Linked DNA regions of Homo sapiens. The protein of the gene in region 1 purifies or fractionates together with the protein of each later gene. This does not show direct contact. Each region holds a gene or a part of one and is shown in the gene's direction. Other genes may lie near its edges.

Evidence for each region.
Region 2: the proteins of ARHGAP32 (region 1) and SHC2 purify together in Homo sapiens (affinity purification with western blotting, with the first as the bait; one study listed by BioGRID). This does not show direct contact.

What each region holds. Positions count from the first base shown.
Region 1 is NC_000011.10:129,185,805-129,189,417, reverse strand, and holds part of ARHGAP32 (rho GTPase-activating protein 32), read left to right. Parts: intron 1-3,613. UniProt on the Homo sapiens protein: GTPase-activating protein (GAP) promoting GTP hydrolysis on RHOA, CDC42 and RAC1 small GTPases. May be involved in the differentiation of neuronal cells during the formation of neurite extensions.
Region 2 is NC_000019.10:454,436-458,048, reverse strand, and holds part of SHC2 (SHC-transforming protein 2), read left to right. Parts: intron 1-3,613. UniProt on the Homo sapiens protein: Signaling adapter that couples activated growth factor receptors to signaling pathway in neurons. Involved in the signal transduction pathways of neurotrophin-activated Trk receptors in cortical neurons.

The sequences.
Region 1 (3,613 bases):
CATATATATGCTTTATACAGTGTATCAGTTAACTGCTTATCACTCCTATAAAGCAGGTATCATTTTTCCTATTTCCTCGGTGAGGAATTTATGGCTCAGAGAGTCACACAGCCCACATTTGTCATGGTGGAGCAAAATTTTGCAAGTGGTAGCACAAAAATTTGAACCCAGATGTAACTGACTTTGAAAGTGAAGACTTTAATGAAAGATTTTTGGGGCTATCTTCTGCTAAATGCTATTTTCTGCTAAGTGATAACTTATAAGAGGCTACAGCTGATATCTCAAGTTTTGAAATTCCTTTTTTTTGAGGAGGTTATGAGCATCAATGACATATAGATTATGTGACCATCATAAAAATGAAGTAATGAACACAATAATGTGACTTTTAAAAAATGTGACCTCTAGGACACCTAGGAATCATGAAAGGTTCTAGTTCTTTGGCATTTGAAGGTAGAAATGTTTATCATATGATTTTGTTTAGACTTCCCTAATACCACGTTATGGGCTGATAGACAGCCTGGCAAATATGACATATAATTTGAAGCAGCTACAGAGATGATATAGTGCTTAATTGAACCATATTTTTGATCACGATCTGTAGATGCCCAGATCGCTGATCTTCACGTATATCTCCATTATTAAGGCAATTCATTTTAAGTGACGAGAAAGTTCTGACTTTAGTTAAACTGGATGATTTGGTGAACATATTTTAATTGGGGGGGACAATGCCTTTATTGATTTATAGCATTATAGAACTAATGATACTTCATGCACTTGACTCGTTGGTTGGTTGCATTATTCATCCTCTACCTCAGGGGTTCCCAACCCCTGGACCGTGGACCAGTTATCTTATTTGGAAGGATGCCACAAGTTAGAAGCTATTGTGGCAGTCTAAGTAGGTAGTAAGGGTCTTGACTGTGGTATTGTACATCTTCTAGGCTCAAAACAGCTTTGAACTCCCAGGCCCAGGCGATCAGATCAGATCTAGATGATTTCTTTTAATGGCTCATTTCCCCTGGAAGCCCATAAAACAATTTCAAGATTTTCTGTTTTTATTACTCTGCCTGTTCTTTTATCTTCTGCAGAAATTCTTGATTTCAGGCTTCCCAGCCAGTTTTAATGATCCTGGAAGTACAGAGAGGTAGTATTAACAATTAACTGAGGCTGGGCATGGTGGCTCACACCTGTAATCCCAGCACTTTGGGAGGCTGAGGCAGGCAGATCACCTGAGGTCAGGAGTTTGAGATCAGCCTGGCCAACATGGTGAAACCCTGTCTCTACTAAAAATACAAAAATTAGCTGGGTGTGGTGGCGGGTTCCTGTAATCCCAGCTATTTGGGAGGCTGAGGCAGGAGAATTGCTTGAACCTGGGAGGTAGAGATTGCAGTGAGCTGAGATTACGGCACTGCATTCCAGCCTGGGTGACAAAATGAGACTCCATCTCAAAAACAAACAAACCTCAACAAACAAAAAAACCACACAAAAAAACCAAAACAAAAAAACCCAATTAACTGTATGTCCATAAATACCATATCACACCCAGGCCCATTTTATACTGTGTGGCTTTTCAAAGGCACCACATCTTTAATAACCTATTACTTATGATGTCAAAAAAGATGTATATTTTGCCCAAAAAGCTACAACTTATATTGTTTTGTAACCTTGAAGAAACATCTGGGATTTAGTTTAGCCCCTAAAATATTATTTTAAAAAATTATTTTTAATTTTAGGGGGTTCATAGTGGGTATATATTTTTATGGGGTACATGAGATGTTTTGATATAGGCACACAATGTGTAATAATCATATCATGGAAGATGGGGTAACCATCCCCTCATGATGGGATATCCATCCCCTCAAGCATTTACCCTTTGTTTTATAAACAATCCAATTATACTCTTTTAATTATTTTTCAGTGTACAATTAAATTATTATTGACTATAGTCACCCTATTGTGCTATCAAATACTAGGCCTTATTCATTTATTCTAACTACTTTTTGGACCCATTAACTATCCCCACCAGCCTCCCACTATGCCCCCACCACCCTTCCCAGCCTCTGGTAACCATCCTTCTACTCTCTGTGTCCATGAGTTTAATTGTTTTGATTTTTAGATCACACAAATAAGTGAGAACATGTGATGTTTGTCTTTCCGTGCCTGGCTTATTTCACTTAACATAATGACCTCTAGCTCCAACCATGTTGTTGCAAATGACTAAATCTCATTATTTTTTATGACTGAATAGTATTCCATTGGGTATAAGTACCACATTTTCTTTATCCATTCATCCATTGATGGACACTTAGGTTGCTTTCAGATCTTGGCTATTGTGAACAGTGCTGCAACAAATATGGGAGTGCAGATACCTCTTCAGTAGACTGATTTCCTTTCATTTGGGTATATGTCCAACAGTGGGATGGCTAGATCATATGGTAGCTCTATTTTTAGTTTTTTTGAGGAACTTCCAAACTTTTCTTCATAGTAGTTGCCTAATTTACATTCCTGCCAACAATGTGTGAGGGTTCCCATTTCTCCACATTGTTGCCGGCATTTGTTATTGCCTTTCTTTTGGATATAAGCCATTTTAACTGGGGTGAGATGATCTCTCACTGTAGTTTTGATTTGCATTTCTCTGATGATCAGTGATGTTGAGCACTTTTTCCTACGCTTGTTTGCCATTTGTTGCCGTCTTTTGAGAAATGCCTGTTCAAATCTTTTGCCCATTTTTAAATCGGATTATTACATTTTTTCCTATAGAGTTGTTTGGGCTCCTTATATATTCTGGTAATTAATCCCTTTTTGCAAATATTTTCTCCCTTGCTGTGGGTTGTCTCTTCACTTTGTTGATTGTTTTCTTTGCTGTGTAGAAGCTTCTAAAATATTCTTTTAACAGTAAGTATAACATTCACCCAACATACTCTCATCAGTGAATTTAATAGTAATCAGCAAAGTCTGATATGAACATCCCTTAATCTCAGAACATTTTAGGCAGTAATGGAGTCTAGCCATTAGGCTGTCTTCATAATCTGTGAAATGAATCTGTCTTAACCGTGAGGCATGCCAGTACAAGACTTTCTTGGTATTTTAGTAATTAAGCCCTTTGGGATGGAGTCCAAGGTGGGCCTTTCTTGTATCTATCTGTATGAGTATTTTGATGTTCAAGAAAGGCCCTAGAGTACACAAACGATATAGACCTGTATAAAAGTTCCTGGTTATTAGGTTGTTTAATTGAAGTTAAAAAGTTTAAACCCAAACCTAATTTTTCTAACTCTTGCATTTCACTTTGGCACTGAACTCTCTTAAATAGTCAATAGGACTTTCAAAAATAAATTGAAATCCCTGAAACATTTAAAGCTCTATTTATAAATTAGTTAATTTTCTTTTTTTTTAAATTAAATATGTCAAGTGACTAGCTTAGCAAGATGATATTCAGAGCAGGCAAAACCTTCCCAGATACTTAATTTTGGAAGTTGCGCTATACTTTTCTTTACATTAATGATTAGTTTCCATTTCCATGTTCTCATAATCATACATGTATTTTCTCTATTTGAAAATAAAATGATTTCTTTCACCCAGGTTTTCTCTCTCTCTTTCTGTGTATGTATGTTTGTGT
Region 2 (3,613 bases), on another chromosome or scaffold:
CCGCCTCCCCGGAACCTACTTCCGCCTCCCCAAGACCCTCTTCTGCCTCCCCGGGACCGGCTTCCGCCTCCCCAGGACCCGCTTCCGCCTCCCCGGGACCCACTTCCGCCTCCCCCGGGTCTGTGCGGATGCCAGGCCTGGTTGGGTCTGTTTTCCCTGGTGGCATCGGGCCGCCCTCGCCGTCTCCCGGCGGTTTGTCCTACAAGTTTAACGCCGACGGCCGGCGTGTTCCACGGAGGACGCGTGCGCTTCCTTCACACCACATCCATTGGGACCAGTCAGGTGTGGCCATTGGCCGTGGATGTGGGATTTAGAATGTTCAGAATTCAGACGCCAGGGTTGTTGGGGCTCCGGATGTTGGGGGATAACTGCTGCTTTCCGTCACTGCAGGAAATATTTAGCATACGCTTCCCCTGCCCGGCACAGATGATGAGTAGACAATGAGAGACCTCGTTCCTGCTCTCAAGGAGCTTGGATTCCAGTAGGAGAGACAGTCAATCAGAAGAGGACAAACAGATGAGGAAATAGGTTCTGGTAGCGGCTCTGCAGAGCTAAAATCGTGTGATATTAGAGCAGGAGGCTGGGCGGCTGCCCCTCCCAGGAGGCGACCTTGAAGCTGAGACCTGAGCCATGGAAACCCCGGCCGTGGGGTTTGCAGACATAGTTCTAGACGGGGCACAGCAGGTGCAGGTGCAAAGGCCTGATATGGTGGGTTTGCAGACAGAGATCTAGGGGGGGTACAGCAGGTGCAGGTGCAAAGGCCTGATGTGGTGGGGTTTGCAGACAGAGTTCTAGTCGGGGCACAGCAGGTGCAGGTGCAAAGGCCTGATGTGGTGGGGTTTGCAGACAGAGTTCTAGTCGGGGCACAGCAGGTGCTGGTGCAAAGGCCTGATGTGGTGGGGTTTGCAGACAGAGTTCTAGTCGGGGCACAGCAGGTGCAGGTGCAAAGGCCTGATGTGGTGGGGTTTGCAGACAGAGTTCTAGGCGGGGCACAGCAGGTGCAAAGGCCCCACGCGGTGGGTTTACAGACAGAGTTCTAGGCGGGGCACAGCAGCTGCAGGTGCAAAGGCCTGACTGTGGAGTTTACAGACAGAGTTCTAGGGGCGGGGCACAGCAGGTGCAAAGGCCCCACGCAGTGGGTTTACAGACAGAGTTCTAGGCAGGGGCACAGCAGGTGCAAAGGCCCCACGTGGTGGGGATTGCAGACAGAGTTCCAGGCAGGGGCACAGCAGGTGCAAAGGCCCCACGTGGTGGGGATTGCAGACAGAGTTCTAGACGGGGCACAGCAGGTGCAGGTGCAAAGGCCTGACGCGGTGGAGTTTGCAGACAGAGTTCTAGGGGGGGCACAGCAGGTGCAAAGGCCCCACGCAGGGAGCGGACCTGGTGCGTGTGCGTCACGGCAAGGAGAGCCATGAGACTGGAGCTGATGGAGAGGGAGCGGGACTCTCTCTGTGGGCTGTGGTGAGGAGTGGGGGTGGTTTTAAGTAGGGGGTGGCGCAGAGTGTGCAGTTTTGAAAGCCCTTCCAGGGGCCGTGTGGAAGTGTTGCTGAGGGAGGAGGAGGGTCTGGAAGGGCAGCAGAGACCCGGGAGGAGGCTGCGAGGGACGGCGGTGGCCCAGGCCAGGGGACCTAGGTGAGGGGAGAAGTGGACAATGAGCCTGTGTTGGAGCCCGGAGGAGTTGCTGATGGACCAGGGGCCCTGGCCCCCAGGGAGCCTGACCGGCCTCAGCCCCCAGCGCTGTCCCCCAGGAGCCCCGTCTCCCAGCACCTACATCACAGCAGGCACAGGGACAGCCGGTCCCTCCTGGTCACAGGGAAGCTTGAGTTAAGGAGGGGAATAGCCAAGCCCCATCACCCGGGGGCTGCGGCCGGCGGCTCAGGCCCGCAGGGCTCTTCCACACTGGAGGGACCCTGTGCACTGAGGGAAACTGAGGCACAGAGAGGCCGAGCTGTGTCTGAGGTTACGCAGTGAAAAGCAGGACCAGAACCCGGGGCTGAGGGTCCTCCTGCGGGAGCCGGAGAGAACATTCTGAGGGCACTCGTCACGCACGCACCTGTGTGGGGCACAGCAACGGCCCCGTGTCCACATCCACCCTCGGATTCTGTGAAGGTGCCCCTCACACGGCGACAGGGGACCTGCAGGTGGGACCGAGTGAGCAACCCTGAGATGGGATGATTTGGGGGCCCGGTGTCCTCGCAGCAGGGGGTGAGAGTCAGAGAGAGACCGGAAGAGGCTGCGCTGTGGCTGCTAACCGGGAGGAAGGGGCCCCCAGCCAAGGGATGTGGGCCCCTCAGGACGCTGGGAAAGGCGGAGCAGATTGGGAACCAACTCTGCCCACACCTTGATTTTAGACTTCTGAGCTCTAGACATAAGCGGATTAGCTCGCGTTGTTTGGAGCCACTCAATTTGTGGTGATTGGTGATAGCAGCAAGAGGGAGTGGATGGGCCGGGCGACTCAGCCGGCATCGCAGAACCCCCCAGAATCCTGCAGCGATCCCGGTGTGTGGGAGAGAAGTTGGACGCCGGATAATCAGCGGCGTGGGCCCCGCGTCCGAGCGCCGTGGGCAGCATCGGTGCAAATGCAGTACCTCCGGCGCCGAGGCTCACGCCGAGTCCTGCGCGGTGCTGAGTTCCGAGGAGCCCTGGGTTCCATTCTCCCCACAACCCTGCGGCTTCCACCCATTTTATAGATGAGGCAGCTGAGGCACAGCAGGTCAAAGAGCTGCCCGAGAGCCCTTCCCTGGGTCATGGCACTCGCGATGCCTTTAGGGCTGTCACCACAGACCTGACTCGGAGCTGCTGGGCGCCAAAGGGACCTTGATTGTCTCCTGCGAGAAGAACCCGGGGTCGGCGGCTCTGGGGTTGGTTAATTCAGCAGCTCAGTGACTTTGTCATGGGTCCAGGTCATTGTTATTTCACCGAAATTCATGCCAACCTGGAACCCCAAAATGAGGCCTTCTGTGGAACAGGCTCTCTGCAGGTGTCATTAAACAAGGTCACGTTGGATTCAGGTCACCCTGACCCGGTGACTGCCGTCTTTATGAGAAGCTGAGTGAGGGCACAGAGAGAAGGACGCGGGACAGGATGAGAGGGGCAGAGACGAGCGATGCGGCCACGGGCCAAGGATGTCAGGGAGCCCCGGCCACCACCAGCACTGGGAGAGGCAGGACGGGCCTTCCCCTGCTGCCTCCAGAGGGGACGGGCTTCCGGCCCTCAGGCCTGTGTGAGGAAGCATTTCTATGGTCTTTTTTTTTTTTTGAGACAGAGTTTCCCTCTTGTTGCTGAGGCTGGAGTGCCGTGGCGCGATCTCGGCTCACCGCAACCTCCGCCTCCCGGGTTCAAGCGATTCTCCTGCCTCAGCCTCCTGAGTAGCTGGGACTACAGGCGCCCGCCACCATGCTCAGCTAATTTTGTTTGTATTTTCAGTAGAGATGGGGTTTCACCCTGTTGGCCAGGCTGGTCTTGAACTCCTGACCTCAGGTGATCCGCCCGCCTGCGCCTCCCAAAGTGCTGGGATGACAGGTGTGCGCCGTCGCGTCCGGCCCATTTCTGTTGTCTTAAGCCCCGTTTGTGGGGATCTGTTAGGGCAGCCACGGGAGACCGACCGCCTTCC